Regions from separate parts of the Homo sapiens genome. Here all the other regions are linked to region 4. The links come from fine-mapping of genetic effects on gene expression. A gene starts in region 4. Each other region holds a variant in brackets. All regions are shown on one strand. Distances are between the middles of the regions. Region 1 overlaps NDUFV1-DT (NDUFV1 divergent transcript). Region 2 overlaps LOC100130987 (a long non-coding RNA gene). Region 3 overlaps PITPNM1 (phosphatidylinositol transfer protein membrane associated 1). Region 4 holds the start of RAD9A (RAD9 checkpoint clamp component A).

Region 1 (7,736 bases), 210 kb before region 4:
GGAATGCCTCTTGCAGTTGAGACAAGAGGAAGGCATCTGTCTCCTGCCTGTCCCTGGGCAATGGAATGTCTCGGTATAAAACCCGATTGTATGCTCCATCTACTGAGATAGGGAAAAACCGCCTTAGGGCTGGAGGTGGGACCTGCGGGCAGCAATACTGCTTTGTAAAGCATTGAGATGTTTATGTGTATGCATATCTAAAAGCACAGCACTTAATCCTTTACATTGTCTATGATGCAAAGACCTTTGTTCACGTGTTTGTCTGCTGACCCTCTTCCCACAATTGTCTTGTGACCCTGACACATCCCCCTCTTCGAGAAACACCCACAGATGATCAATAAATACTAAGGGAACTCAGAGGCTGGCGGGATCCTCCATATGCTGAACGCTGGTTCCCCGGGTCCCCTTATTTCTTTCTCTATACTTTGTCTCTGTGTCTTTTTCTTTTCCAAATCTCTCGTCCCACCTTACGAGAAACACCCACAGGTGTGTAGGGGCAACCCACCCCTACAAATTAGGGAAGAAGTAGGGGGAAAAGATGAAAATAAACCAAGCCTGCAGCATACTCAGTATTCATCATGAGGTCAGCTGCTCTCTGACCTGCTTCCTCATGGCTGGTTGGTGCCTGTTGTCCCGGAGTGACAAAGACCCTAGATTATAGCTGCCCTTAACTGCTGTATAAATAACAACTTGAACATGAAATGCTAAATTTTCCTTTTGAAGTATTCCTTCAGATCCTGCATGCTGATAAAACTACTGACTCAACTGGTCCCCATGAGGAGCTGGCTCACCAAAGAATGCGGTTTCCAATCCCAATTATTTCATGCCCCTTGCTTAGGCAATCAACAATCCCAAATTTCCAGCCCCTTGCCCTCCACAATCTCCTTAAAAAATTCAGTCCAAAACTCCTTGGGGAGATGGATTTGAAGGTCTCCTCCCATCTCCAAACTTGGTGCCCTGCAATCATTAAACTCTTTCTCTGCTGCAAACCCTGCTATCTCAGTGTAATTGGTCTGTTACTGCATACATATGGGCATACAAACCTGTTGGTCCTACAACAACCCCATACAACTATCTTGAGCACCTATTGTCAGGCCCAGTGTGAGTAAGGCACGATCAGATCTTCCCCAACCCCCAGCATAGAGCTTCTCAAGGGAGGGACTTACTCAATATTGTAATCAAATATTATATTTGAAAAATGAAAAACATCAATTTTTTTCCTGTGTTTGAAATTGAAGAAATACCAAAAAAGCAAGAAGAAAGTAATAACATTTTATGACCATCCTGACAATACCTGTTACTGTTTCTAGGTGATTTTTTTTTTAATATTTATTTATTGAGATGGAGTCTCGCTCTTTCCACCCAGGCCAGAGTGCAGTGGTGCAATCAGCTCGCTGCAACCTCTGCCTCCTGGGTTCAAGCGATTCTCCTGCCTCAGCCTCCCAAGTAGCTGGGATTACAGGTGCACACCACCACACTTGGCTAATTTTTGTATTTTTAGTAGAGACAGGGTTTCACCATGTTGACCAGGCTGGTCTCGAACTCCTGACCTCAGGTGATCCACCCACCTCAGCCTCCCAAAGTGCTGGGATAACAGGCGTAAGCCACCGAATCTGGCCAAATTGTTACTTTTTCTCGAACTCGTGAACTCTCGGCTCACTCATGCGCCACCGTGCCCGGCTATTTATTTTTTTTTTTTAGTAGAGACAGGGTTTCTCCATGTTGGCCAGGCTGGTCTCGAACTCCTGACCTCAGGTGATCCGCCCACCTCGGCCTCCCAAAGTGTTGGGATTACAGGCATGAGCCACTGCGCCTGGACATATACTCTGTTTTTGTTTTCACTTCATATTCAGGAAGGGGGATAGAGATATTAGCTTTTGCTTGGACATGAAATTTAGGTATGATCTAAAAATTTAAGAGTAATCACTAAAAATAAAAGTAAAATGTGTAACTTCCAATAGTAGGGGAGAAGGGACTAGCACAAAAACCTCAATTCAACTGAAGACAAGAAAACAAAGTAAAGAAGAAATACAGGGAAAGAATGCTAAATAGGAAATACAGGCCAGGTGCGGTGGCTCACGCCTATAATCCCGACACTTTGGGAGGCCGAGGCGGGTGGATCACTTGAGGCCAGGAATTCGAGACCATCCTGGCTAACATGGTGAAACCCCGTCTCTGCTAAAAATACAAAACATTAACCGGGCATGGTGGCAGGTGCCTGTAATCCCAGCTACTCGGGAGGCTGAGGCAGGAGAATTCCTTGAACCCGGGAGGCAGAGATTGCAGTGGGCCGAGATCGTGCCATTGCACTCCAGCCTGGGTGGCAGAGCGACTCCGTCTTAAAAAAAAAAAAAAAAAGTTTTTCTAGTTTTTCTTCTCTGGTCTTGATGTGTTTGAGAAAGACATAGTGGGTTTCAGGTTGTATCCTGCTGTCTTGAACTGGAAATCTTTTTTTTCCATGAATTTAAACTGGAAAGAGTAAAGTCTATCAGTCACGGCTGGTGGGGCACGCAAAGGACAAGGTGAAAGTATTTAAGGCAAGCAGCACAATGAATGACGCATCAGGCCCAGGCCTCTCTCCCTGCTGGCCCAGCTCAGGGGCCATGGAATACCCTCCGCGCCGCCATCCTGGTGTGGCCACTCTCCATCACTCTGCCAGGGTCTCAGGGTCCCTCTTTGGCATATACCATCCTGATGCATTAGACATGGTCTGCAGTTTCCATCACGGAGGACCAGGGAGGTCTTGGGCATACACAGACCCCAGGTACCGGTATCAGTCCCCTGGGTCCGGTCCTGCTGGCGCCTCCCTGCAGCAAACTCACATCCGGAAACCCAGAAGATCAGGTCTAGGTAACGATTGTTTCTGCATTGGTCCTTTGCCCATCCCCCTGTTGTCACCTGAAGTCTTGCCTATACCCCCTTTGTCCCTTAACACAAAAGCTCTTGTCCCTTAACACGAAAGCTCTAGTCTCTTCTTTTTCACTCCTCATAGTCCTTGATGGCTATCTGGGATGACAGACACCAGGAAAAGCTTACACACCCCTTCAACGCCCCTTCTAAGCTGTGAGAAATGTGAAACTCGTCTTCCCCATTCCTCAATGGTTCAGGTTTTAGAAATGTCAGGCCTCATCTTATAAATCAGCAAAAAGAAAAAGAAAAAGACTGTTGAGTTTTTATGATCAGAAACAGGTTGAGCAGTTGTCTTCTATTACATTTTCTTCCTCCTGGGGCCACTTTGCACCTTGCAAAGACAATTTCCTCCCACTATGCAAAACTCAAAGCCACAAAGGACATTGAAGGGGACCTCTGTGGCTGCAGCCGGTCATGAGGCCATGGCCAGTATTTATGGCTTCCTTCCTTTATCGTGCACCCACAGTCCCCGCCAGTTGGCCCCTCAGCTGCTGGGAGGATGGGGGAGCCAGGCTGGTTCACAGGGCTTTCACCAGGTGGATGACTTAATATCATAAAAGTGTCACATCTTCAAATTAATCTGTAAATTCACTGCAAATTCCCATCAAAATCCCACCAGGGCTTTTCATGGAAGTGGGAAAGCTGACACCAAAATGTATATAGAACAACAAAGGGCCAAGAATAGCCAAGACAATTTTGAAGAAGAAGATGGGGTGGGTGGTGGGTTTCGCCCTGGCAGATAGCAAGACTGATTCTAAAGCCATAGCAATCCAGTCAAGTAGACCAATAGTTCTTACATATAGTGCATCTTTATCATCATTCGCTAGATGTTCTGCAATTTTGGTTTTGATTTCTTCTTTGACGGGAGTCATTTTAAGAAAGATTTATAAATGTACAGGGGTTAGGGGGATTTTGTTTCCCGGTTTTGTT[A/G]TTTTTCATTTTATTGCCTCATAATGAAAGACTGTCATCTGTACTATTTCTCTCCCTCTCCCCACCCCTCTTAATCCCTGGAATGTTCTAAAATTTCCTTTAAGGCATAATACATAATTATTATAGTAAATGTCCCAAGAGCAATTGAAGGGTGGTGCCTCTCTGCTTTCCTATGGCAGAGTTTGAAATCTTATTTAAAACTGCCAGAGTCCTTGTCTATCTGTGAGCTTTTGTTGTATAGGTGCCCAGATATGTTACTTGGTGCACAGATGCTCTTAACTGTAGTCACTTGAGATGTGTCCTACTTTCTTTCTTTCTTCTTCTTCTTTTTTTTTTTTTTTGAAACAGAGTCTCGCTTTGTCGCCGCCCAGGCTGGAGTACAGTGGCACGATCTCGGCTCACTGCAACCTTCACCTCCCAGGTTCAAGTGATTCTCGTGCCTCTGCCTCCCGAGTAGCTGGGATTACAGGTACATGCCACTGGGACCGGCTAATTTTTGTATTTTTAGTAGAGACAGGATTTCACCATGTTGGCCAGGCTGGTCTCTATCTCCTGACCTCAGGTTACCTGCCTGTCTCAGCCTCCCAAAGTGCTGGGAGTCTCCTACTTTCATAAGAGATAAAGTGTGTATTTAGATGGAATGTGTGTTTTGGTTTTCATGGTCTTTGTGGCTTTTGGGGTATTCTGAAGGATTAGTGGGAATCCCAGCTCCACCATTAAAAACCACAGGTCCTCCCTCTTCCTGTCAAATGTTGCAAATATTTCCTTTATCATCTATCTGATAATCTAATAAACAATAATGATCATTGTACAAGAGAAAACTTCAGATAAATGCATGAGGTGATGGTCACACTAAATATCCTAATTTGTTTGTTTTTGAGACAGGATCTCCCTCTATTACCCAGGCTGGAGTGCAGTGATGGGAATATAGCTCACTACAGCCTTGACCTCTTGGGCTCAAGCAATCCTCCCACCTCAGCTCCAAAGTAGTTGGGACCACAGGCATGAACCACCACACCCCACTAATTTTTTAATTTTTTATAGAGATGGGGTCTCATAATGTTGCCCAGGGGGACCTTGAACTCCTGGGCTCAAACAATTCTTCCGCCTGGGCCTCCCAAAGTTCTGGGATGCTAGATGTGAGCCATTATGCCCAGCCTACCTAATTTGATCATTATAAAACACATATATGTATATGGAACCACCAAATTGTACTCCATAAATATGTACAAGTACAATGTATCCATTAAAAATTTAAAAAGAGAAATCTTTTGTTTTGATATAGTTAAATTCATTCATTTAGGGGCCTTATTTAAGAAATCTATCTCGGTTTTTTTGGTGGAGACGGGGTTTCGCTGTGTTGGCTGGGCTGGTCTCTAGCTCCTAACTGCGAGTGATCCACCAGCCTTGGCCTCCCGAGGTGCCGGGATTGCAGACGGAGTCTCGTTCACTCAGTGCTCAATGTTGCCCAGGCTGGAGTGCAGTGGTGTGATCTCGGCCAGCTACAACCTCCACCTCCCAGCCGCCTGCCTTGGCCTCCCAAAGTGCCAAGATTGCAGCCTCTGCCCGGCCGCCACCCCGTCTGGGAGGTGAGGAGCGTCTCTGCCTGGCCGCCCATCGTCTGGGATGTGAGGAGCCCCTCTGCCCGGCTGCCCAGTCTGGGAAGTGAGGAGCGCCTCTTCCCGGCCGCCATCCTGTCTAGGAGGTGAGGAGCATCTCTGCCCGGCCGCCCATCGTCCGGGATGTGGGGAGCACCTCTGCCCGGCCGCGACCCCATCTGGGAGGTGAGGAGCGTCTCTGCCCGGCTGCCCCATCTGAGAAGTGAGGAGCCCCTCCACCCAGCAGCCGCCCCATCTGAGAAGTGAGGAGCCCCTCCGCCCGGCAGCTGCCCGGTCTGAGAAGTGAGGAGCGCCTCCGCCCGGCAGCCACCCCATCTGGGACGTGAGGAGCGTCTCCACCCGGCAGCCACCCCGTCCGGGAGGGAGGTGGGGGCCAGCCCCTCTGCCCGGCCACCACCCCGTCTGGGAGGTGTACCCAACAGCTCATTGAGAAGGGGCCATGATGACGATGGCGGTTTTGTGGAATAGAAAAGGGGGAAAGGCAGGGAAAAGATAGAGAAATCAGATTGTTGCTGTGTCTGTGTAGAAAGAAGTAGACATGGGAGACTTCATTTTGTTCTGTAGTAAGAAAAATTCTTCTGCCTTGGGATGCTGTTGATCTATGACCTTACCCCCAACCCTGTGCTCTCTGAAACATGTGCTGTGTCCACTCAGGGTTAAATGGATTAAGGGCGGTGCAAGATGTGCTTTGTTAAACAGATGCTTGAAGGCAGCATGCTCTTTAAGAGTCATCACCACTCCCTAATCTCAAGTACCCAGGGACACAAACACTGCGGAAGGCCGCAGGGTCCTCTGCCTAGGAAAGCCAGAGACCTTTGTTCACTTGTTTATCTGCTGACCTTCCCTCCACTATTGTCCTATGACCCTGCCAAATCCCCCTCTGCCAGAAACACCCAAGAATGATCAATAAAAAAAAAAAAGAGAGAGAGAGAGAAAATAATGAAGTGAATGGTATAAAATGTTGAATAGGTAAATCTGGGTAAACGGTAAATATGGCTGTTTTTGGTAGTTTAAAAAATTTTTTTGCAACATTTTATAACTTTGAAATTATTTCCAAATAAAAAGTTTTAAACTCCAAAAAGAAAAAAAAGAAAAAAAAAAGAAATCTATTCCTAGCCCAAGGTCATAAGAAACTTTCTTTAATTATTTTTTTCTGTTAGTATTTTATTTTTCTCTCTCAAGTGTAGGTGAACCCTAGTGCAGGGCTTCTCAACCTTGACACTATGGCCATTTGGGGCTTTGCTGTGAGCTTCTCAACCTTGACACTGTGGCCACTGGGGCTTTATTTGCTAGCTGCCCTGTGCATTGGAGGATGTTGAGCAGCATCCCTAGGTGTCAATAGCACCCCACAAGTTGGGACAACAAAAATGTCTCCAGATATTACCAAATATCCTCTGGGTGACAACATTGCCTCCTCTCGAGAACCACTGATCTGTTTAGATTTTATTGTATATGGTGTGAGGTAAGGATCCAGTAATTTTTCTTAATAGGTGGAATCAGTTTCACTAATGCTATCTAAATAACTCTTCTTTTCAAACTTATTTATGATACCACTGCTAGTACATACTGAGTTCCAAGATAGGCATGGATTTGTTTTATATTTTTATTTTATTTTATTTTTCATTTTTAAAGCATGGGTTGGTTGTATGTGATAGAGACTGGCTAGATATCACAAACTCATTTCCTCTTCTCAGACACAGAGCTAAACTGTTTCTCAGTCTTCTTGCATCCAAATGGGGCAGAAATGAAGTGTGTCACTTCCAGGCCTGGGCAGCCGGGAACAAGTGTGTCTTCACCTTGTTCTCTCTCTCTCTCTCTCTCTCCTTTTCAAAGACACCTTGCAAACATATGAATCTGGGTTGAATGGGCTCAGTTCTCACTCAGGGAGATAACCAGAACAAACTATAAATATAGTCTCTGAGTCCAGGGGTCAGTTAATCAAGATTCCTAGATTGAAGCTTGAAGCATATTTTCCTGATTTGTGGTTTTAATATCTCTGTTTATGGCAGAAGGCATTTCAGCAAACTCCTCAAGTGCTCCCTACATCAGGCATGAGGGGTTTTCTCTGAAGTTTAATCCAGTTGTCCATATCCTGCTTGTAGGGCTTTAGGAACAAAGCAATCCTTGTTCTTAATGATTACAAGTCAGAAAAGTGGGAGACACTTAAATTGGAGAAACCAAAAAGAATTCGGGCTCAAGCAATCCTCCCATCTCAGCCCCCTAACTAGCTAGGACTACAGGCCTGTGCCACCACACCTGGCTAACTTTTGTATTTTT
Region 2 (7,736 bases), 61 kb after region 4:
ATTCAAGCGATTCTCTTGCCTCAGCCTCCCAAGTAGCTGGAATTACAGGTGTGCACCACCATGCCTGGCTAATTTTTGTATTTTTAGTAGAGACAGGGTTTCACCATGTTGGCCAGACTGGTCTCAAACTCCTGACCTCAGGTGATCTGCCCACCTCGCCTCCCAAAGTGCTGGGATTACAGGCACAAGCCACCATGCTCAGCTGGAGATGGAGTTTTGAGGGAAGATCCTTTGAGCCTGGGAGCCCAGGAGGCTGAAGTGCAGTGAGCTGAGATCACACCACTACACTCTGGCCTGGGTGAGAATGAAACCTTGTCTCAAAAAAAGAGAAGGGGAGGGGAGGGGAGGGCAGGGGAATCATAAAAGTATATTTACTATTAAGTGGAAGTGGATCGTGATAAAGGTCTTCATCCTCGTCGCTTTCACGTTGAGTAGGCTGAGGAAGAGGAATGGTTGGTCTTGCTGTCTCAGGGGCAGCAGAGGCAAAAGTGGTGGAAGGGGAGGCAGGAGAGGCAGGCACATTCTGGTGTAACTTTATGGAAATACATTGTAACTTCTGTCTGACATTTTTGCTTTTTCATTTCTCTAAAAATGTTTCTATATAGCAGCAGTCCCAACCTTTTTGGCACCAGGGACTAGTTTTATGGAAGACTTTTTTCCCATAGATGGGGTTAAGGGGGTAGTTTCGGGATGATTCAAGCACTTTGTATTTATTGTGTGCTTTATTTCTATTATTATTACATTGTAATATATAATGAAATAATTAGACAGCTCACCATAATGTGGAATCAGTAGGAGCCCTGAGCTTGTTTTCTTGCAACTAGATGGTCCTTTCTGGGGTGACAGAAGACAGTGACAGATCACCAGGCATTAGATTCTCATAAGGAGCTGGCAACCTAGATCCCTCACACGCACAGTTCACAATGGGGTTCGCTCTCCTGTGATCTGACAAGAGGTGGTGCTTATGTGGGAATGCAAGTGATGGGGAGCAGATGTAGATGCAGATGAAGCTTGTGTTCGCTTGCTCACCCGTTGCTCACCTCCTGCTATATGGCCTGGTTCCGGTGGCCTGGGGGTTGGGGACCCCTGCTATATGGTATTAATCCTTCTTCCACTGTTTGATTGAGTTTCAGTGCCTGCATCACAGAAGGGTCCATGTCATAAAAAATGTCAAAAGTGGTCCTGAATAATCAGAACCCTTCTTCTAGACTAATGTTAATTATTTTCTGCCACTGCTGCTTCTACATCTTCTTCTTCATCTGGCACAGGTTCAGAAGCACTCATCTCTATCGAGTCATCTTCTGTTAATTCGTCTTGGGTGGTGTCTATTAAGCTCTTCAATTTTTCTGAGATCCATATCAAACCCTTCACCCCATCTTTTTTGCCATATCCACAATCTTTTTCATGATTTCCTTGCTTGGCTTTATCATCAATCCTGTGAAATCATGCATAACATCTGGACACAGTATTCTCCAGGAGGAATTTATTGTTTCAGGCTTGATGGTTTTCATGGCTTTTTCCATAACAATGATGGCATCTTCAGTGGTATAATCCTTCCAGACTTTCACGATGTTCTATCAGGGTTCGCTTCCATAGAGTTGACAGTCCTTTCCATAGAGTACCATGTATATGTGTAATGAGCCTTTAAGGTCCTTACGAACCCCTTGATCTAGAGACTGAATTAGAGACGATGTGTTTGGAGACAAGCAGACCACTTTGACACCTTCGGTATTGAACTGATGGGGTTCAATGCCAAGGGCATTGTCCAATAACAAGAGAATTTTAAAAGGCAATCCCAGGCCAGGTGTGGTAGCTCTCGCCTGTAATCCCAGCACTTTGGGAGGCCGAGGCGGGCGGATCACTTGAGGTCAGGGGTCTGAGACCAGCCTGGCCAACATGGTGAAACCCTGTCTCTACTAAAAATACAAAAATTCTCTGGGCATAGTGGTGCGTGCCTGTAATCCCACTTACTTAGAAGGCCAAGGCAGGAGAATTGCTTTAACCCAGGAGGTGGAGGCTGCAGTGAGCTGAGATCATGCTACTGCATTCCAGCCTGGATGACAGAGCAGGACTCCATCTCAAAAAACAACAAAAAAAGGCAATCCCCTTACTGACAAGGTACATCCTGACTTCAGGGACAAAGTATCAATGAAATCAATTCAGAAAAAGGGTTTTCGTTGTCCAGGCTTTCCTGTTGTACAACCAAAAAATTGGCAGCTGGTGTTTTTCTTTTCCCTTCGGCTTGGGGGTTAGCAGATTTATAGATAAGGGCAGCCTTCATCATAAACCTGACTGCATTTGCACAAAACAATAGAGTTAGTCTCTTTTCTTTCCTAAATCCTACTGCTCACTTCTCTTCCTTACTAAGAAAGGTCTTTTGTGGTTTTCTCTTTTCTTCTGCATTAAAAACCTGTTCAGGCAGGTACCTTTTCTCCTCCTCTTTTTTTTTTTTTTTTTTTTTTTTGAGACAAGTTCTCACTCCCATTGCCCAGGCTGGAGTACAGTGGCACAATCACAGCTCACTATAGCCTCAACCTCCTGGACTCAGGTGATCCTCCCACCTCAGCCTCCTGAGTTGCTGGGACTACAGGCATTTGCCAACACAGCTGGTGAATTTTTTGTATTTTTTTTTTTTTTTTTTTTAGTAGAGATAGAGTTTCACCATGTTACTCAGGCTGGTCTTAAACTCCTGAACTCAAGCAATCCACCCACCTCGGCCTCCCAAAGTGCTGGGATTATAGGTGTAGGCCACCGCGCTGGGCCTCAGTTATTTTCTTATTGGCATCTCAGAACTCATCTTTTGTCTCTTGGAAGGTAAAAGGTGCTTTTCCTGTTATCTTGACCTTTTTTTTTTTTCTTTTGAGGCAGAATCTCACTCCCATCACTCAGGCTGGAGTGCGGTGGCACTAACACAGCTCACTGCAGCCTCGACCTCTCGGACTCAGGTGATTCTCCTACCTCAGCCTCCCAAGTAGCTGGAACAATAGGTGCATGCCACCATGCCTGGCTAATTTTTAGGATTTTTAGTAGAAATAGGGTTTTGCCATGTTTCCCAGACTAGTCTCAAACTTCTGGGCTCAAGCAGTCCTCCCATCTTGGCCTCCCAAAGTGCTAGGATTATATGCATGAGTCACCGCACCCAGCCTCTCTTGACATTTTTAAAGCCAAACCTCTTTCTAAAACTACCAAACCATCTTTTGATGGCATTAAGCTCTCTAGCGTTAGATCCTCACCTTCCTTTTGCTTTAAGTTGTCATATAATGACTTCACTTTTTCTCACATCATATTAGAGTCTACATGTACTCCTTTCTTATAGCAACCCTGCACATAAAAGGTGAATTTTCAATATGAGATAAAAAGTTATTTTGCAAAAAGTGCAAGATTTTCACACCTCCTGGTATAGCTTCACCAATTTCCTTTATTTTTTTTTTTTTTTTTTTTTACAATAGTCCTTACACTGACTATTGAAATAGTGGGCAACCATAGGTACAGACCTCAATCTGTGGAACATATCAAGCAATTCAGATTTTTCTTGAAATGTCATAACTTTTCTCTGCTTCCTGGAGTGCTCCCAGCATTAACAGTGGCACTTCATATGGGTCCTATGCTGAAATTCAAGGTCGATGGCATTGCACGAGACAATGAAAACTCCATGAGAACTGCAAGAGATCACCTTTTTACTGCAATAGGCAAGTTACTAGATAGACAAACTGCTCATGCAGAGATGATTAGTGTCACAGCATTTTAAGTGGATACTCGAAACAACTGAACTCAATGCAACAGCAACAGGAGGTGGTTATGAAATTATTACAGTAGTACAGTATGTACTAATTTTATGCAGTTATGATTTAATACGGCATCAAAATTTTTCTTTTTTTTTGAGACAGGGTCTCCCTCTGTCACTCAGGCTGGAGTGCAGTGGCATGATCATGGGTCACTGCAACCTTAACCTGGGCTCAAGCGATTCTCTCACCTCAATCTCCCAAGTAACAGGGACTACAGGTGTGTACCACCATGGCCAGCTAATTTTTTAAACAATTTTTTTGTAGAGACAGGGTCTGGCTATGTTGCCCAGGCTGGAGTGCAGTGGCATGATCACAGCTCACTGTGACCTCAAACTCCTGGGCTCAAGTGATCCTCCTGCCTCACCTTCCTGAGTAGCTAGGACTATACGCACGTGCCTCAAGTGATCCTCCCAGCTTGGCCTCCCAAAGTGCTCTG[A/G]TTACAGGTCTTGGCCACCTCATCCAGCCAATTTTAACTTCTTATAATAGATTTATCTATATTTCATTGTAGTAAGTGATAAAATAGACCAGTAGCTATACTTGGTGCATTCATGACATACCGAACTTTCTCTTAATTTTTCAATATTTCTAGGCTATGTGGTTTGTTTGTACATTTTTCAAATTGTTGCAAATCTCTAAAAAAAAATTCCAATATATTTATTGAAAAAAACCTGGCTGGGTATGGTGGCTCACGCCTGTAATCCCAGCACTTTGGGAGGCCAAGGCGGGTGGATCACGAGGTCAGGAGTTCAAGACCAGCCTGGCCAAGATGGTGAAACCCCATCTTTACTAAAAATACAAAAAAAATTAGCCAGGTGTGGTGGCAGGTGCCTGTAATCCCAGCTACTGGGGAGGCTGGGGCAGAGAACTGCTTAAACCCGGGAGGCAGAGGTTGCAGTGAGCCAAGGTCATACCACTGCACTCTAGACTGGGCAACAGAGCAAGACTCCGTCAAAAAAAAAAAAAAGAAAAGAAAGAAGGAAAAAGAAAAGAAGGGAAGGGGAGGGGAGGGGAGGGAAGGAACTTGTGTGGATCCAGGCAGTTCAAACCCATGCTGTTCAAGGGTCAACTGTATATTTCTTTTAGGTATTATATAGTTGGATCTTGATTTTTTTTTTTAGACAGAGTCTCACTCTGTCACCCAGGCTGCTGTCTTTTAGTTGGAGTATTAAATTGGAGTGTTTATATTGAAAGTAGTTATTAATATGGTTGGGCATAGGTCTACATTAGTTTGCTGGAGTTGTGCTATGGTCTGAAGGTGTCCTCCAAAATTGATGTGTTGAAAGCGCAGTCCCCAACGCAATAGTGTTAGAAGGTGGGGTCTTTTTTTTTTTTTTTTTTTTTGAGATGGAGTCTTGCTCTGCTGCCCAGGCTGGAATGCAGTGGCACAATCTCAGCTCCTTACAACCTCCATCTCCCAGGTTCAAGCGATTCTCCTGCCTCAGCCTCCTGAGTAGCTGGGATTACAGGTATGTGCCACCAAGCTTGGCTAATTTTTGTATTTTTAGTAGAGACAGGGTTTCACTAAGTTGACCAGGCTGGTCTTGAACTCCTGACCTCAGGTAATCCGCCCGCCTCAGCCTCCCAAAGCGTTAGGATTACAGGTGTGAGCCACCGCACCCAGCCTAGAAGGTGGGGTCTTCTAAGATTTTTTAGATCATGAAGACTCCGCCCTCATGAATGGATTAATATCACTATGAAGAGGGCTTGTGGGAGTGGGTTCACTCTCTCTTGCCCTTCTGCTTTTCTGCCATGTGAAGACACAGAGTTCATTCTCTCTTGTTCTTCTACCTTCTGCCATGTGAGGACGCAATCAGAAGACTTGAACACTTTTGGAACTATGAGAGAATAAATTTCCGTTCTTTATACATTATCCAGTCTCAGATGTTCTGTTACAGCATCACACAACAGACTAAGACAGGTTGCCATAACAAAGAACCACAGATTGGGTAGCTGAAACAACAGAAATTTATTTTCTCACAGTTCTGGGGGCTAGAAGTCTGAGATCAAGGTGTTGAGAGGGCTGATTCCTTTTGGGAGCCATGAGAAAAGGATCTGTTCTAGGTTCTGTTCTCTCCCCTTGGCCTATAGATGGCTGTCTCCACATCATCTTTCCTCTGTATGTGTCTATATCTGAATTTTCTCTTATGAGGACACCAGTCATAGAGGATTAGCATCCACCCTAAGACCTCATTTTAACTTAAAACCTCTGTAGGCCAGGTGCAGTGGCTCATGCCTGTAATCCCAGTACTTTGGGAGGCCGAGGCAGGTGGATTATCTGAAGTCAGGAGTTCGAGACCAGCCTGGCCAACACAGCAAAACTCCGTCTCTACTAAAAATACAAAATATCTCCAGGTGTGGTGGTGTGTGCCTGTAGTCCCAGCTACTTGGGAGGCTGAGGCAGGAGAATCGCTTGAACCTGGGAGCCGGAGGGTGCAGCAAGCCGAGATTGCGCCATTGCACTCCAGCCTGGGTGTTAGAGCAGGACTGCATCCAAAAAAAAAAAAAAAAAAACACCTCTGTAAAGATTCTGTCTATAGGCCGGGTGGCTCATGCCTGTAATCCCAGCACTTTGGGAGGCTGACGGGGGCGGCGGATCATGAGGTCAGGAGTTCGAGACCAGCCTGGCCAACGCAGTGAAACCCCGTCTCTACTAAAAATACAAAAATTAGCCAGGTGTAGTGGCCCGTGCCTGCAGCCCCAGCTACTCAGGAGGCTGAGGCAGGAGAATAGCTTGAACCCGGGAAGCGGAGGTTGCAATGAGCCGAGACCAAACCATTACACTCCAGCCTGGGTGACAGAGTGAGACTCCATCTCAAAAAAAAAAAATATTCTGGCCGGGCGTGGTAGGTCACGCCTCTAATCCCAGTACTTTGGGAGGCCGAGGCGGGCGGATCACGAGGTCAGGAGATCGAGACCATCCTGGCTAACACCGTGAAACCCCGTCTCTACTAAAAAAACAAAAAAATTAGCCGGGCGTGGTGGCGGGCGCCTGTAATCCCAGCTACTCGGGAGGCTGAGGCAGGAGAATGGCATGAACCCGGGAGGTGGAGCTTGCAGTGAGCTGAGATCACGCCACTGCACTCAAGCCTATGCGACAGAGTGAGAATCCGTCTCGGAAAAAAAAAAATTCCATCTGTAAATATTACGTATTATTAGGAGGATTACTTGAGCCCATGAGTTTGAGGCAGTATTATGCTATGGCTGCGCCTATGAATAGCCACTGCACTCCAGCCTGGGCAACACAGCAAGACCCTGTCTCTAAAATTAAATAAATAAATAAATAAAAATTACAAACACAATGAAATAAATAAATTAGGCAAGGATTATTAATGCTAAGGCCAATGGCTGATAGATTGCTGGGGAAAAGCATATTCGCATGGTCTCAACTTACCATCCAAGTTATTTATTTTTACACGTGGAAAAGAGTTCCTTGTCAATAGAGAGATCTAGCAGATACCATCTTAACCAAGTAAATAAACTCAGTATCGGCTGGGTGCAGTGGCTCATGCCTGTAATCCTAGCACTTTGGGAGGCCAAGGCGGGCAGATCACCTGAGGTTAGGGGTTCAAGACCAGCCTAGCCAACATGGCGAAACCGTGTCTCTACTAAAAATACAAAAATTAGCTGGACATGGTGGCGCATGCCTGTAATCCCAGCTACTAGGGAGGCTGAAGCAGGAGAATCGCTTGAACCCAGGAGGCAGAGGTTGCACTGAGCCGAAACCGTGCCACTGCACTCCAGCCTGGGCGACAGAGTGAAACTCCGCCTCAAAAGAAAAATAAAAATAAAAAATAAAATAAACACAGTATTATCAATAATGGGATAAAGCAACATTACATGACTAAAGTAATGCAACAAATAGGAAGAATATGTTATACAATATCCTTAGTATTCTTGTAGTATTATGTAGTATTCTTGCAAAAAGGCTTACCCTGAATCTAATTATAAGGA
Region 3 (6,355 bases), 100 kb before region 4:
GCCAGGGCCTGCCAGCAGGCCCAGGGGACTTGGATGGCAGGAGTGGGTCTGGAAGCCCCTCACCCACGCACATTTCCCCCTCCTACAGCCTGAGCCCTTACAGCCACGATGGGGACAGCCTGTCTCGCTCCCAAGACCACATTCCACTGGCTGCCCTGCCACTGCTGGCCACCTCATCCTCCCGCTACCAGGGCGCCGTGGCCACCGTCATTGCCCGCACCAACCAGGCCTACTCAGCCTTCCTGCGCTCACCTGAGGGTGCCGGCTTCTGTGGGCAGGTCAGCGGTTAGGGACAGTCCATCTGCTGCCCTCCACTGCAGCCCCCACTGTAGTCTGGCCTGGGTGAGGACAAGGCCTCTCCTGATGGTGCCCCTGCTCCCACCCAGGTCGCACTGATTGGAGATGGTGTTGGTGGCATCCTGGGCTTTGATGCACTCTGCCACAGTGCTAACGCGGGCACCGGGAGTCGGGGCAGCAGCCGCCGTGGGAGCATGGTCAGTATAGCCAAACCCGGCCTCCTCAGGAGCGGAAAGGCCCTCTCTGGCTCTAGGTCTCTGCCCCCTGGAATGCCACCCCTCTGCCAGCAGGCAGGCCCCCTGCTGCCCTGCCAGTTCATGTCTTCTCTGGAATTCTGCTCTGCCCAACCCCCAAGCCTCGCTCCTCACTTCTAAGTAAGTAGAATTCGAATGGTCCCCAGGCCTAAGAATGTTTCTGTCTCCTGTTCCATCCAGAACAATGAGCTGCTCTCTCCGGAGTTTGGCCCAGTGCGGGACCCCCTGGCAGATGGTGTGGAAGGCCTGGGTCGGGGCAGCCCAGAACCCTCGGCCTTGCCTCCCCAGCGCATCCCCAGCGACATGGCCAGTCCTGAGCCCGAGGGCTCTCAGAACAGGTGACGTCCCTGCCCCATCACCCCTACCCTGGGCACATGATGGACTACAGAGGCAGCAGCACTGAGCACCCCTCCTCCCCCACAGCCTTCAGGCAGCCCCCGCAACCACCTCCTCCTGGGAGCCCCGGCGGGCAAGCACGGCCTTCTGCCCACCCGCTGCCAGTTCCGAGGCACCTGACGGCCCCAGCAGCACTGCCCGCCTTGACTTCAAGGTCTCTGGCTTCTTCCTCTTCGGCTCCCCACTGGGCCTGGTGCTGGCTCTGCGCAAAACTGTGATGCCCGCCCTGGAGGGTGAGTCCTAGGGGCTGCGGGGGCGCCTCTAGTCTCTGTCTGCCCCTTCCTTCCCCACCTCCTCTGGCCTTCCCTCTCATCCGAGGCATGAGCAACTTCCCCACTGTACTAATTCAAAGGCCTGGCTACAGAAGGGGAACCTGAGGCCCAGAAAGAAGGGACTCGCCAAGGGTGAGTCTCCCAAAGCCACTGGGAGGAGCTTCACACCCGTGGGATGTTCTGCACTAGAAGGGGTCAATCAGACACCACAGCAGCAAATCGAAGCCGCTGCCCTCTTCTCAGCCTTTTTTTTTTTTTTTGAGACAGAGTCTCGCTCTGTCACCCAGACTAGAGTGTCAGTGGCCTGATCTTGCTCACTGCAACCTCCTGGGTTCAAGTGATTCTCCTACCTCAGCATCCCAAGTAACTGGGATTACAGGCACCTGCCACCATGCCCAGCTAATTTTTGTATTTTTTTTAGTAGAGACAGGGTTTTGCCATGTTGGCCAGGCTGGTCTCGAACTCCTGACCTCAGGTAATCCACCCACCTCTGCCTCCCACAGTGCTGGGATTCCAGGAATGAGCCACTGAACCCAGCTAATTTTTGTATTTTTAATGGAGACGGGGTTTCACCATGTTGGCCAGACTGGTCTCGAACTCCTGACCTCAAGTGATCCATCTGCTTCTGCCTCCCGCAGTACTGGGATTCCAGGCATGAGCCACGGTGCCCAGCCCCTGTCTCACTTTAAGCAGGGCCCTACTGACTTCCCAGGGAGTGCAGTTTGGGAAGTGCTGGCTCGGGGTCACACCAGACATCAGGGTGCTGCTCCCACACCCCCTACCTCCCAGAGTGCCCAGCTGAAACCCTGACCCCACAATCTTTCTCTGTCTTCTGGGTACCAGCAGCCCAGATGCGCCCAGCCTGTGAACAGATCTACAACCTCTTCCACGCGGC[T/C]GACCCCTGCGCCTCACGCCTCGAGCCCCTGCTGGCCCCGAAGTTCCAGGCCATCGCCCCACTGACCGTGCCCCGCTACCAGAAGTTCCCCCTGGGAGATGGCTCATCCCTGCTGCTGGGTACGCCCCCAAACAAGATAAAGGGGAGAAGGAGGAGGGCACACACAGGAAGGGAGGAGGTAGCAGAAGACATGAGGAGGCTCCCAGACGATGGAAAACCTCTCAGGCCACCACTCCCAGGACCAGGCGCTCCTTCCCCCTGGGGGGGTCTGGATCCCCAGGACCCTCTGACCTCCTGGGCCTAGAAGTTGGGTGGGGGTGGTTAGCCAAGCTAGAGAGGGTGCCCCCTGGCAGCATGATGCTGGTGTGCTGCCATACAAGCAGCCAGCATGTGTGCGCTGCTGCATCTGTGTGGGGTGTGCTGCAGACATTTATTGCGGGGCATGCCCAGGTATGTATGGGCCAAGCGGGCCTGTGTTGGGCACAGGTGTGCAGCGTTTGGGGCGGTGGCAACAGGCATTCTGGCAGGAGTGCAGCTGGCCACTGGGCTGAGAGGAGAGAATGCCACAGTGCAGCCTCAGCCAGGACCTGACCAGAGGGGCCACAGGAAGATGGCAGAGGTGCGGGGAGCCCTGGGTGAGAAGACAGGAGAGCCACCTGGCCGGCCCCTGCTGACCTTGCCCTCCTTCCCCCAGCCGACACTCTGCAGACGCACTCCAGCCTCTTTCTGGAGGAGCTGGAGATGCTGGTGCCCTCAACACCCACCTCTACTAGCGGTGCCTTCTGGAAGGGCAGTGAGTTGGCCACTGACCCCCCGGCCCAGCCAGCCGCCCCCAGCACCACCAGTGAGGTGGTTAAGAGTAAGTCAGCCAGCCTAGGCAGTCCAGCCTGGGGGTGGGGGAGGCCCGTATTCCACCTCCGAAGCCCAGCTGAGAAACCCTTTCCCCCAGCACACAGCCTGGACTTGGCAAAGAGCAGGCTGGGTGAAAAGGGGGGAGGGAAGAGCACCCAGCGCCCAGGCAGATGGGTGTGGGGCAGGAGGCCATCCTGACTCGCTGCCATGGCCGCGCAGTCCTGGAGCGCTGGTGGGGGACCAAGCGGATCGACTACTCGCTGTACTGCCCCGAGGCGCTCACCGCCTTTCCCACCGTCACGCTGCCCCACCTCTTCCACGCCAGCTACTGGGAGTCCGCCGACGTGGTGGCGTTCATCCTGCGCCAGGTGGGCCTGGGAATATGGAATGGGAGATGAGAATGGGACGGGGATGGGCTGCTTTGGGCCGGGGGAGGGGCAGCCCTCCCTCCCCTAAGAGACAGAGGCCTCGCCCCCTGTCCCGTGCAGGTGATCGAGAAGGAGCGGCCACAGCTGGCGGAATGCGAGGAGCCGTCCATCTACAGCCCGGCCTTCCCCAGGGAGAAGTGGCAGCGAAAACGCACGCAGGTCAAGATCCGGGTAGGTGCCCTGCCCCTCGCCCCCTCGCCCACTCGCCCACTCTCGCCCACTCACCAGAGAGGCCCCGCCCCTCCCCCCAGCACCCCCCTCCTCGGGTCCTAGCCGATCCAACTCTCTCCCAGTCCTGCCCCGCCCCTGGGGTCCTGGCCCCACCTCATTGCCCCAGCCCCGCCCCTGGGAACCGCTGGTCTCCCCGCCCTCTGCGGGAAGTTTGGGTCTAGGGTCTGGATCTGCGCTGGTCCCCACCTCGCCTCATCCTCTGCATCCCGTCCTGTCACAGCTCTGCCCCTGGAGGCGCGGCCCACACACAGGCTCTCAGGCCGGGGTCCACAAAAGTGCGCCCCCCGGGCTTGCCCTTTTCCCTCAATGCCCCGCCGCCTCTAGGCCCCCACCCCGGTGTTTGCGTGTGGATCCTCACCCGCTCCCCCTCCCCAAGCATCCCCATCCTTTGCTGGCCGCGGACTCACGCCCTCTCCTCCCTCTAGAACGTCACTTCCAACCACCGGGCGAGCGACACGGTGGTGTGCGAGGGCCGCCCCCAGGTGCTAAGCGGGCGCTTCATGTACGGGCCCCTGGACGTCGTCACGCTCACTGGAGAGAAGGTCAGGACCCAGAGGCCCTGTCGCCTGGTCCCATGGCCCCATCTCCTGTCCTCGGAACAGCTCCTGGTCCCTGGTGGTTGTGCCCCTAGACCCACCCATCCCCGACGACAGCCCCGCCTCTGCCCACCTCCACGCAGGGCCCCCATTTACCTCCCGCCCCTTCTCCCCTCCAGGTGGATGTCTACATCATGACGCAGCCGCTGTCGGGCAAGTGGATCCACTTTGGCACCGAAGTCACCAATAGCTCGGGCCGCCTCACCTTCCCAGTTCCCCCAGAACGCGCGCTGGGCATTGGTGTCTACCCCGTGCGCATGGTGGTCAGGTGAGCGCGGCTGGCCGGGCCTCTGCGGGAGGGCTCCGCCAGGCCTCGCCCCGCGCCACTCACGCCCCGCCCCGTGGGCCGCAGGGGCGACCACACCTATGCCGAATGCTGCCTGACTGTGGTGGCCCGCGGCACGGAGGCTGTGGTCTTCAGCATCGACGGCTCCTTCACCGCCAGCGTCTCCATCATGGGCAGCGACCCCAAGGTGCGAGCTGGCGCCGTGGACGTGGTCAGGTAGGAGTTGCCACTGCCACCACCACCCATTTCACCGGGGTGACCGGCCCCTCACCCCTGGCCAGCGGAGCTGACCGCTGCCCCCGCCCCACAGGCACTGGCAGGACTCCGGCTACCTGATCGTGTATGTCACAGGCCGGCCGGATATGCAGAAGCACCGCGTGGTGGCATGGCTGTCGCAGCACAACTTCCCCCACGGCGTCGTCTCCTTCTGCGACGGCCTCACCCACGACCCACTACGCCAGAAGGCAATGTTTCTGCAGAGCCTGGTGCAGGAGGTGCGGCGGCTGGGGGAGGCTCCGGGTCCTGACCCCGCCCCCGCTCCCCCTTACCCTCCACCCCCGGATCGGCGGAGGCCCATCTGTTCCCAACTGGATCGGCCCGGGCCCTGCCTGACTGCAGCGGCCCGCTACGGTCCTGCTCCCCTAGTTTGAGGGGCCCCGTGTACTTAGGGGCAACTAGGGAGATGCAGCTGGTCCCGCCCCTGTCCCCGTGGGACTGGGACCTGTCTTCGCCTCCGTCTGCCTGGACCCACCCCCAGAACAATCTGGGGAAGCCCAACAGGCCCCGCCCCCAGCTGCACGGCTCCACCCCTGGGGCGGCTGATTGGCATCTCCCGCCACAGGTAGAACTGAACATCGTGGCCGGTTATGGGTCTCCCAAAGATGTGGCTGTATACGCGGCGCTGGGGCTGTCCCCGAGCCAGACCTACATCGTGGGCCGTGCCGTGCGGAAGCTACAGGCGCAGTGCCAGGTGAGGCCCAAGTGAAGGCCAGGAACAGGACCCCACCAGGGGGCAGGGCCCTCAGTCCCAGGCCTTGGGAACCACGGACTCTGGGGAAGATGTGAGAAGGCCTAACCGGCCTCCAGGGAACCTGGGATCCTCCGAGGACAAGGGCCATGAGCAGCTTGAGCTGCCAGCTGCCAGGCAAGCCAGAGGGGACAGCCCACACTGGAAAGTGCTCAAGACCCTAGGCGCTGGTTCCACTCGGCCATGGCTTTCCACTGTGACCTTTCTGAGCCTCAGCTTCCCATCTGTAAATGGAAATGATCATGGCACTGCCCATGTCAGCTTATGAAGATCACATCAACAGGCACAGGGCTGGGCACAAAGCAAGTGCTGGCTAAACATTGGCTGCTGTTATTTTTCCTCTAAGACCCCATTTTCCAGATGAGGAGACTGAGGCCCAGAGAAGGGCAGAGCTAGGAGCACAGCCAAGGTGCCCTGGCTCCCAGCCTGGGGTCCTATCTATTGAGAAGGCTTCAGCTCAGGCTGTGCCAAGCCTGCCACCAGTCCCCCAGCCTGCCTCAGGTGCCTCTGGAGGACCGTGGAGGGCAGCGTGTGGGCCCTTGGCCAGCACCCCCTCATCGCTGCCTACCTCTGCCCACAGTTCCTGTCAGACGGCTATGTGGCCCACCTGGGCCAGCTGGAAGCGGGCTCGCACTCGCATGCCTCCTCGGGACCCCCGAGAGCTGCCTTGGGCAAGAGCAGCTATGGTGTGGCTGCCCCCGTGGACTTCCTGCGCAAACAGAGCCAGCTGCTTCGCTCGAGGGGCCCCAGCCAGGCGGAGCGTGAGGGCCCGGGAACACCACCCACCACCCTGGCACGGGGCAAAGCACGGAGCATCAGCC
Region 4 (7,736 bases):
GGATGAGGCCCAGAGAAGGTGGCAGGGAGGGGACTGGTTGCAGTGGTTGCTCAAACCTGGCAGGCGGCACCTGACCATGCAGACCAGGGAGAGGGCCCAGAGGCAGGACGTGGCACTCAGGCCACCCTACAAACCCGGCCTTCAGAAAGAGCCCTGAAATCCTTATCCTCTAAGGATACCCATTGACATACAGATGAAATCACATCTGGAAATTGTTTCAAGTCAAGTGGGGACGGGAGCTGCGTCTGCTTTTACATATATTTGAAATTATTCATGAGACAGAGTGCTTGCTTCGGCAGCACATACACTAAAACTGAAGCATGCAAAAGATGAGCAAGGCCCCTGCGCAAGGATTTAAAAAAAAACAGTGGCTCATGCCTGTAATCCCAGCACTTTGGGAGGCCGAAGCAGTGGATCACTTGAGTTCAGGAGTTCGAGACCAGCTTGGCCAACATGGTGAAACCTCGTCTCTACTAAACATATATAAATTAGCCGGGCGTGGTGGTGCATGCCTGTAATCCCAGCTACTCGGGAGGCTGAGGCAGGAGAATCGCTTGAACCCGGGAGGCAGAGATTGCAGTGAGCCAAGATTGCACCACTGCACTCCAGCCTGGGTGACAGAGCGAGACTCTATCTCAAAACAAAACGAGAGAAACAATTGCTCATTTTTAAAAAAAGAGACTGAGTGTGGTGGCTGACGCCTGTAATCCCAGTACTTTGGGAGGCTGAGACGGGCAGATCACCTGAGGTCGGGAGTTCAAGACCAGCCTGACCAACATGGAGAAACCCTGTCTCTACTAAAAATACAAAAAATTAGCCGGGCATGGTGGCGCATGCCTGTAATCCCAGCTACTCGGGAGGCTGAGGCAGGAGAATCACTTTTATCGGGAGGCGGAGGTTGTGGTGAGCCGAGATCGTGCCATTGCCTGGGCAACAAGAGCGAAACTCTGTCTCAAAAAAAAAAAAAAAAGACACCACCCTAAATGCAGACCAAGGAATTGGCCCCCGTCTCTCACTACCCAAAAGAGCTCTGAGCAGTGCTGGCTCAAAAGAACCTGGGGAAACAGATGTCAGGACCCAAAGGGATCTTCAGTCACCCTGAGAAATGAGCAGGACCTTGGGCCACTTGAATGCAAGCAGTGACCAGCATGGAGCAGGGGGAGAGCCCACTCCTCTCTGAGCTGGTCCTCGCCAGGGACGTTTGCTTCAACTGGAGTCCCCATTTCCCTGGCCCCAGACAGCCCCCAGTGCTCGGACTGCCCAGAACAGCTCCACCCCATAGCTGATTATTCAGCCTCCCTCCAGCCTCCTGCCCTGGCCTTGGGGACTCCTCGATCCTGGGCAGTCAGGAAAAGAGGCTGCCGTTGAATGGGGAACACCTCTGGAAGGATGCCCAGGCCGGAGAAGGGGTCTGAGCCTCTGAGCCACAGGTTATGGGCAGACCTTCAAGGTTACTCAAGCCAGACAAGAGATTTGGTGGCAGGCCAGAAATGTGCTCCCTAGAGGAGGAGTTGGAATGGGTTTGAGCAGCCAGAAAGTCAAGTCAGACCTTTGGGATGGAGAATGCAGGCTCCTAACAGTAAGGAGAATGGAGCAAGGAGGCGCCTGCCCCTCCTCCATGCCACCGTCTGCCTTTAAAGAGCCAGGTAAGGACCTGAGCACATAGCGGGCCATGGGATGTCTTTGAGGTTCACAGAAACTCTGTAGGGAAAATGAAAGAGGTACCTTCTAAAATCAACCCCTTGGGGCCCCAAAGAAGGAAGAGAGAGACCCGGGGCTGAGCTGAGGGCAGGGGTGTGCTCACCGTGCTGGGGCGCGGAGCATGTGGGGGCACGAGGCTGGGTCGAAGACGGCCTGCAGGGACTCACAGTCCTGGAAGGACAGGTTGTGAGTCTTCCGCACCCCTGGATGGGCGATAGGGTCTCAGTGGGCCTCGCCGACCTCCCTGCTGAGGCACCCCTTGGCTGGCCGGCTGCCCACTCACCGAACTTGCAATGCAGCTGGACCACCAGGCGGCTGCTCCGGCCATTCAGGGAGATGCAGCATTTTTCCACCGTCTTCTCCAGCATCGCCAGTGAGCGGAAGACAGACAGGAAAGACTGCATGGGATAAGACACCTCAGCCTAGCATCACATCTCTGCAACAAGCTCTCCTGTCCCATGCAGGCCCACACCCATCATGGGCCCAGCATGTAACTCTGGGAAAAGGGCTCCCACGTCACCTCGGGCACTGGCATCCTTCTAGGCCTCATTCATGCTCTTCCTTATGCTTGGAATGCCTTGAAAGACCTGCTTACCTTTTTTTTTTTTTTTTTTGAGATGGAGTCTCGCTCTGTCACCCAGGCTGGAGTGCAGTGGTGCGATCTCAGCTCACTGCAACCTCCACCTCCCGGATTCAAGCAATTCTCCTGCCTCAGCCTCCCGAGTAGCTGGGATTACAGGCGCGTGCCACCACGCCCAGCTAATTTTTGTATTTTTAGTAGAGACGGGGTTTCGCCATGTTGGCCAGGCTGGTCTCGAACTCCTGACCTCGTGATCCGCCTGCCTCGGCCTCCCAAAGTGCTGGGATTACAGGCGTGAGCCACCGCGCCCGGCCAAAAGACGTGCTTACCTTTCTTGACGAACTTGAGCGTCACCACCCTCTCAGGTCCCCGCTGTGATGCTTTTACCATGGCCCTCCCTGTGTTTTGCATGGATTGGGCTTGCACGTGTCTCTCTCCCCACTTAGCATCTACTGAGTACCCCAGGGCAGAGGCACAGCTGGTGGAGATTCCTGGGGTGGAGTAGTGCCACTGCTGAGGGAAGGGCCTCACCTTCATCAGGATCTTACAGCGCAGCAGGTCCTGACCAGGGGTGGCTGCCTGGTATTGCTGGAAGAAGAGCGGGGCAAAGAGAAAGCAGGCATAGGCAGAGCGGGAGGAGTTCACCGTCCGGAGGGAGAGCTGGGCCACGAAGAGCAGGGAGAGGGACGTGGTCAGGGGGCAGCCACAGACCCAGCCCTCTGGCTGCTTCTGCTCACACACTTGCCCTATCGTCCTCCCGCTCCGCCACCACCTGCTGAAAAACCCTCCTTTCCCCATGGAAGCCTTCAGAGTCGGCCCCGGCGCTGCTGCCGCAGAGGAGGGGTCGCACACCCAGGCCTTCCCCGAGTTTCTCTAAGTGCACGTCACCCCCTGGGAGCTCGCAGGACAGCTTTCCTCAATTCACACACCGGCCTGGGAAGATGACAGCCGCCAGACTAAGAAACTGAAACTTTGCCGACAAATCTGCCAGCGGTCATCCCGCCTAGTGGGGGCGAGACTCTAGTCCGGGTTACCCGCTCCCGGCTGGAGTCCCACCCGCCCCCCACACCCTAGCCCCTCACCCCGTCCTCCAAGGGTTCCAGGTAGAGCTCGTCCCCGATGCGGGACAGGGAGTGGACGGCCTTGCCGAGCACTGCGGGGAGAAGAGCGGAAGGGGGTTAGGCTGGCGGCTCCGCGGCTGCTGCACCGCCGCTGCCAGGCCGACCTGCACTCACCCTTCACGTTGCCGCCCGTGACCAGGCACTTCATGCTGCCCCAGCGCTCCGCCAGCGGCCAACACTGCCCAGCTCTCCGCGACCTCCGGGTCCGGGGTCCCTTCCCGCGCACCGCCCCTGCCGGCCCCGCCCCCGCCTCCCCATTGGTCCACGTGCAGGCGCCTCCGTCACGTGAGAAAAACGCTCACAGGCTCTGCCGTCACGTGACGGCGCACGTTGTCCGGGGTGTCACGTGACCGGGGAGGCCCGCGGCGCCCGCCAGCCAGCTGCTCCTGGCTCCCCCGGCACGCCTCGGCCTTCCGTGCCCCTGGAGATCGGGGCGTTCCGCGGGCCGCGCACCGGATTGCGAAGGTCAGAGAGGACGCAGCTGTGGGGCGCGAGGTCCCTGTGCAGTGGACCGAGTGCTGGACTCGGAGTCGGAGTGTGGGGGCGAGCTCTCTGGGGTCACCCACTTAGTAGAGTTCCCGGGCGTCTGCCGGGGGATACAGGGTGCAAGCAAGACCATCGCACCCACTCTGGGCCTGAGACTCGGACTCCAGCAGCAATCCCCAACTCTAGAAAGAAGTCAAAGCAGCTTGCTTGCAGCAGCCGGGAGTGGGAGGTGGCTGCTCCTTCCGGCTTCGAGGATCCTTTAAGGAAAAACGGCAGTTTCTCCAGGCAGAAAGGGGTAGAACGGTGCCCCTGGCAGAGGGAAGAACAAGAGTAAATGCTCAGCGGTGTGGGCTCCGCCCCCTGGAGAGGGGAGTAGGTCTGTGAGTCTCAGAGAGGCGTAGGGGCCGCCAGATGATGAGGGGCACCGCTGGGACGCTCTGGAAACGTTTTACGAGGGTAGATCGTGGTTATGTGCCTTTTTTTGTTTGTTTGTTTTTTGAGACATATTCTTGCTCTGTCACCCAGGCTGGAGTGCAGTGGCGCGAACACGGCTCACTGCCGCCTGGAACTCCTGGGCTCAAGGGATCCTCCCATCTCAGTCTCCTGAGTATCTGGGACCACAGGCACACCCACCACGCCCGGCCCTTTTTTTTTTTTTTTTTTTTTGGGTAGAGACGGAGTCTTGCCATGTTGCCCAGGCCGGTCTCAACTGTGGGGTTCAAGCTGTCTTTCCGCCTTGGCCTCTCAAAGTGGAGTGAGCTACTGCACCGGCCTGTTTTTTGTTTTTTGTGTGTGTGTGTGGGGTTTTTTTGTTTGTTTGTTTTGAGATAGAGCCTCGCTCTGTCGCCCAGGCTGGAGTACAGTGGCACGATCACGCCTCCCAGGTTCAAGCGATTCTCCTGCTTCAGCCTCCCAAGTAGCTGGGATTACAGGCGCCTGCCACAACGCCTGGCTAATTTTTGTACTTTTAGTAGAGACGGGTTTCACCATGTTGGCCAGGCTGGTCTCGAACTCCTGACCTCAAGTGATCCGCCCGCCTCGGTCTCCCAAAGTGCTGGGATTACAGGCATGGGCCACCGCGCCCAGCCCCGGGTCTGTATTTTTAAAAGACCCCAGACTGGCCGGGTACGGTGGCTTACGCCTGTAATCCTACCACTTTGGGAGGCCGAGGCGGGCGGATCACGAGGTCAAGAGATCCAGACCATTCTGGCCAACATGGTGAAACCCCGTCTCTACTAAAAGTACAAAAAGTAGCCGGGCATGTTGTCACGCGCCTGTAGTCCCAGCTACTCTGGAGGCTGAGGCAGGAGAATTGCTTGAACCCGGAGGCGGAGGTTGCAGTGAGCCGAGATCGCGCCACTGCACTCTAGCCTGGCAACAGAGTGAGACTCCATCTCAAAAAAAAAAACCAGACTGTGTGCCAGGTGGGGATGCATCAGCTGGAAGGTATTCCCCTTCCCCTGGGCTTCCGGGTCCACGTGTGTAAAATGTAAGGGAGTCCTGGAGAAACTCACTGACCCCTACTCTCCCCACAGTACCAAGGCTCTGGTAGTTCTTGGAAGGGCCCAGGGCATCCCTGTATTCCTGCAGGGCCTGCCCGTGCCTTGCCCCTCAGGTCCTGTGGTAGTGCAGAAGATATATTTATCTCTGCCACCCTTGCTCTCCAGACCCACTTTCAAATGAGTTGAATTGATACATAATAATTGTACACATTTGGATACATGCATACACTTTGTTTCTCCCTCTCCTTCCCTTCTGCTCCCCTCGTCACCAGCCCTTGCCCCTTCCGTGGAGCCTTGGGGGAGGAGGTTACTCTTCCCTTCCCCTTCCCGGGGGATCCATGGAAATAGTGCCCCTGTCCCTGGGCATCCGGCTCAGTATGCTGGAGTCATCCTTGACCTCATGCTCGCCCTCACCCCTACACAGTCTTTCAGTTAAGTCCTGACCACTCTGCTTCCCAAACAGGTGGCAACTTAACAGGTGGCAACTTTGCCCTCCTCTTCCATCTCCAAGGCCTAGGCCACCATCCTCTCACCTGGATGACTGTAACAGCTCTCAGTGGTCTCCTGCCTCCACCCTGCCCCCTCCAGGCCACTCTCCATACAGCAGCAAAGTGACCCTCCTAAAATGTCCATTGTGTCATGCCTCTCCCGTGTTTGCACACTCCAGTGGTTGCCATAAAATCCAAACTCTGCCCTGAACCTGCAGGAGCCGCCGCCACCCATTTCTCCACCTGTGGCCTCCCCTTGATCACCTGCACAGCCATGCCAACCCTGTGGGCTCCCTGAACCCTCCACTTCCTTTTCCACCTGGGGATTTTAGCACATCCTTAGCTGTCCCCACCACTTGGCATCGTCTTACCCCTTCTAACGTGGCGGTGCTTCTCTTCCTCCAGGCTCAGTGCCGTCTTTTCTGCCCCCACCAGCATCCCATTACACTCTAGCTAGACCCTGTTTTAGCCACAGCACTTATCACGTTATTTCATGCGTGTGTTTGCCTGTTTAACATCTGTCTTCCTCACTAGTGTGTCTGCCTCACAAGGGCAGGAACCATGTCTGGTTTTTGGTTTTTTGTTTTTTCTGAAGACAGAGTCTTGCTCTGTCGCCCAGGCTGGAGGGCAGTGGCGCGATCTCGGCTCACTGTAACCTCCGCCTCTGGGGTTCAAGCAATTCTTGTGCCTCAGCCTCCCAAGTACCTGGGAATACAGGTGTGTGCCACCACGCCCGGCTAATTCTTGTATTTTTATTAGAGATGGGGTTTTGCCATGTTGGCCAGGCTGGTCTCAAACTCCTGACCTCAACTGATCTGCCCGTCTCAGCCTTCCAAAGTGCTGGGATTACAGGCGTGAGCCACTGCACCCGGCCTTGGCTTTGTTTTGTTTGTTCTGTTTTGTTTTGTTTGTTAAGATGGGTTCTTGCTTTGTCACCCAGGCTGGAGTGTAGTGGCACGATCATAGATCACTGCAGCCTCAACTTCCCAGGCTCAAGCGATCCTTCCACCTCAACCTCCCGAGTAACTAGGGCTACTGGCGCATGCCACTACAGCCAGCTAATTTTTTAAATGTTTGTTAGAGACAAGGTCTCCTTCTGTTGCCCAGGCTGGAGTTGAACTCCTGGGCTCAGGCGATCCTCCTGCCTTAGCCTCCCAAAGTGCTAGGATTACAGGCGTGAGCCACCACACCCAGCATCCATGTCTGTTTTGTTTGTTGCTGTATGTACCTCACACAGGGTCTGGCACTCAGTAAATAATGAATAAATAGGTGTTACATTTAAAAATGTGTAAACCAGCCGGGCGCGGCGGCTCATGCTTAATCCCAGCACTGTGGGAGACCAAGGCTGGTGGATCACTTGAGCCCAGGAGGTGGAGATTGCAGTGAGCTGAGATAGCGCCACTGCACTGCAGCCTGGGTAAGAGAGCCAGACCCTTTCTCAAAAAAAAAAAAAAAAAAAAAAAGTAGGCCGAGCGCTATGGCTCACGCCTGTAATCCCAGCACTTTGGGAGGCCGGGGCAAGTGGATCACCTGAGGCCAGGAGTTTAAGACCAGCCTGGCCGACATGGTGAAACCCCATCTCTACTAATAATACAAAAATTAGCCAGGCATGGTGGCACGTGCCTGTAATCCCAGCTACTCAGGAGGCTGAGGCAGGAGAATCGCTAGAACCTGGGAGGTGGAGGTTGCAGTGAGCCAAGATCGCGCCACTGCACTCCAGCCTGGGCAACAGAGTGAGATTCTGTCTCAAAAAATGAATGAATGAATAAATATCTGTAAACCATTCCTGTTGACAAAGGGCATGGAAAAATAAGCAAACAAACAAATAAATAAATCAGCGTGAGCCAAATGCAGCTGA

What was found. PIP is the estimated chance that this variant, and not a neighbour inherited with it, causes the effect.
Region 1: its variant is the best candidate, but not a certain one, in a credible set for the expression of RAD9A in transverse colon (GTEx, PIP 0.63).
Region 2: its variant is the best candidate, but not a certain one, in a credible set for the expression of RAD9A in skeletal muscle (GTEx, PIP 0.86).
Region 3: its variant is the best candidate, but not a certain one, in a credible set for the expression of RAD9A in tibial nerve (GTEx, PIP 0.83).

What each region holds. Positions count from the first base shown.
Region 1 is chr11:67,596,130-67,603,865 of GRCh38, reverse strand. NDUFV1-DT (NDUFV1 divergent transcript) reads left to right here. Exons shown (of 3, transcript NR_130935.1): 3 at 1-986. Among named protein-coding and RNA genes, the nearest start is that of NDUFV1-DT, 6.7 kb to the left of the region's middle. RefSeq lists enhancers at 1-378, 3,160-3,209. The variant A/G (reference allele first, on the strand shown) is at 3,841.
Region 2 is chr11:67,326,793-67,334,528 of GRCh38, reverse strand. All of the region lies in intron 2 of LOC100130987 (a long non-coding RNA gene), which reads right to left. Among named protein-coding and RNA genes, the nearest start is that of POLD4, 23 kb to the left of the region's middle. The variant A/G (reference allele first, on the strand shown) is at 4,222.
Region 3 is chr11:67,492,056-67,498,410 of GRCh38, reverse strand. It overlaps PITPNM1 (phosphatidylinositol transfer protein membrane associated 1), which reads left to right. Exons shown (of 24, transcript NM_004910.3): 11 at 89-278; 12 at 387-494; 13 at 732-889; 14 at 975-1,180; 15 at 2,063-2,233; 16 at 2,809-2,973; 17 at 3,186-3,334; 18 at 3,455-3,565; 19 at 4,051-4,167; 20 at 4,341-4,489; 21 at 4,574-4,723; 22 at 4,818-5,001; 23 at 5,349-5,477; 24 at 6,115-6,355. Among named protein-coding and RNA genes, the nearest start is that of MIR6752, 5.0 kb to the right of the region's middle. The variant T/C (reference allele first, on the strand shown) is at 2,115.
Region 4 is chr11:67,387,859-67,395,594 of GRCh38, reverse strand. It overlaps RAD9A (RAD9 checkpoint clamp component A), which reads right to left and starts at 3,609. Exons shown (of 11, transcript NM_004584.3): 1 at 3,517-3,609; 2 at 3,364-3,434; 3 at 2,813-2,941; 4 at 1,985-2,099; 5 at 1,805-1,904. The coding sequence starts at 3,550. It overlaps LOC100130987 (a long non-coding RNA gene), which reads right to left. Exons shown (of 4, transcript NR_024469.1): 4 at 3,908-4,197. It also overlaps the pseudogene RNU6-1238P. RefSeq lists enhancers at 2,988-3,492, 3,527-4,442 and a silencer at 3,393-3,762.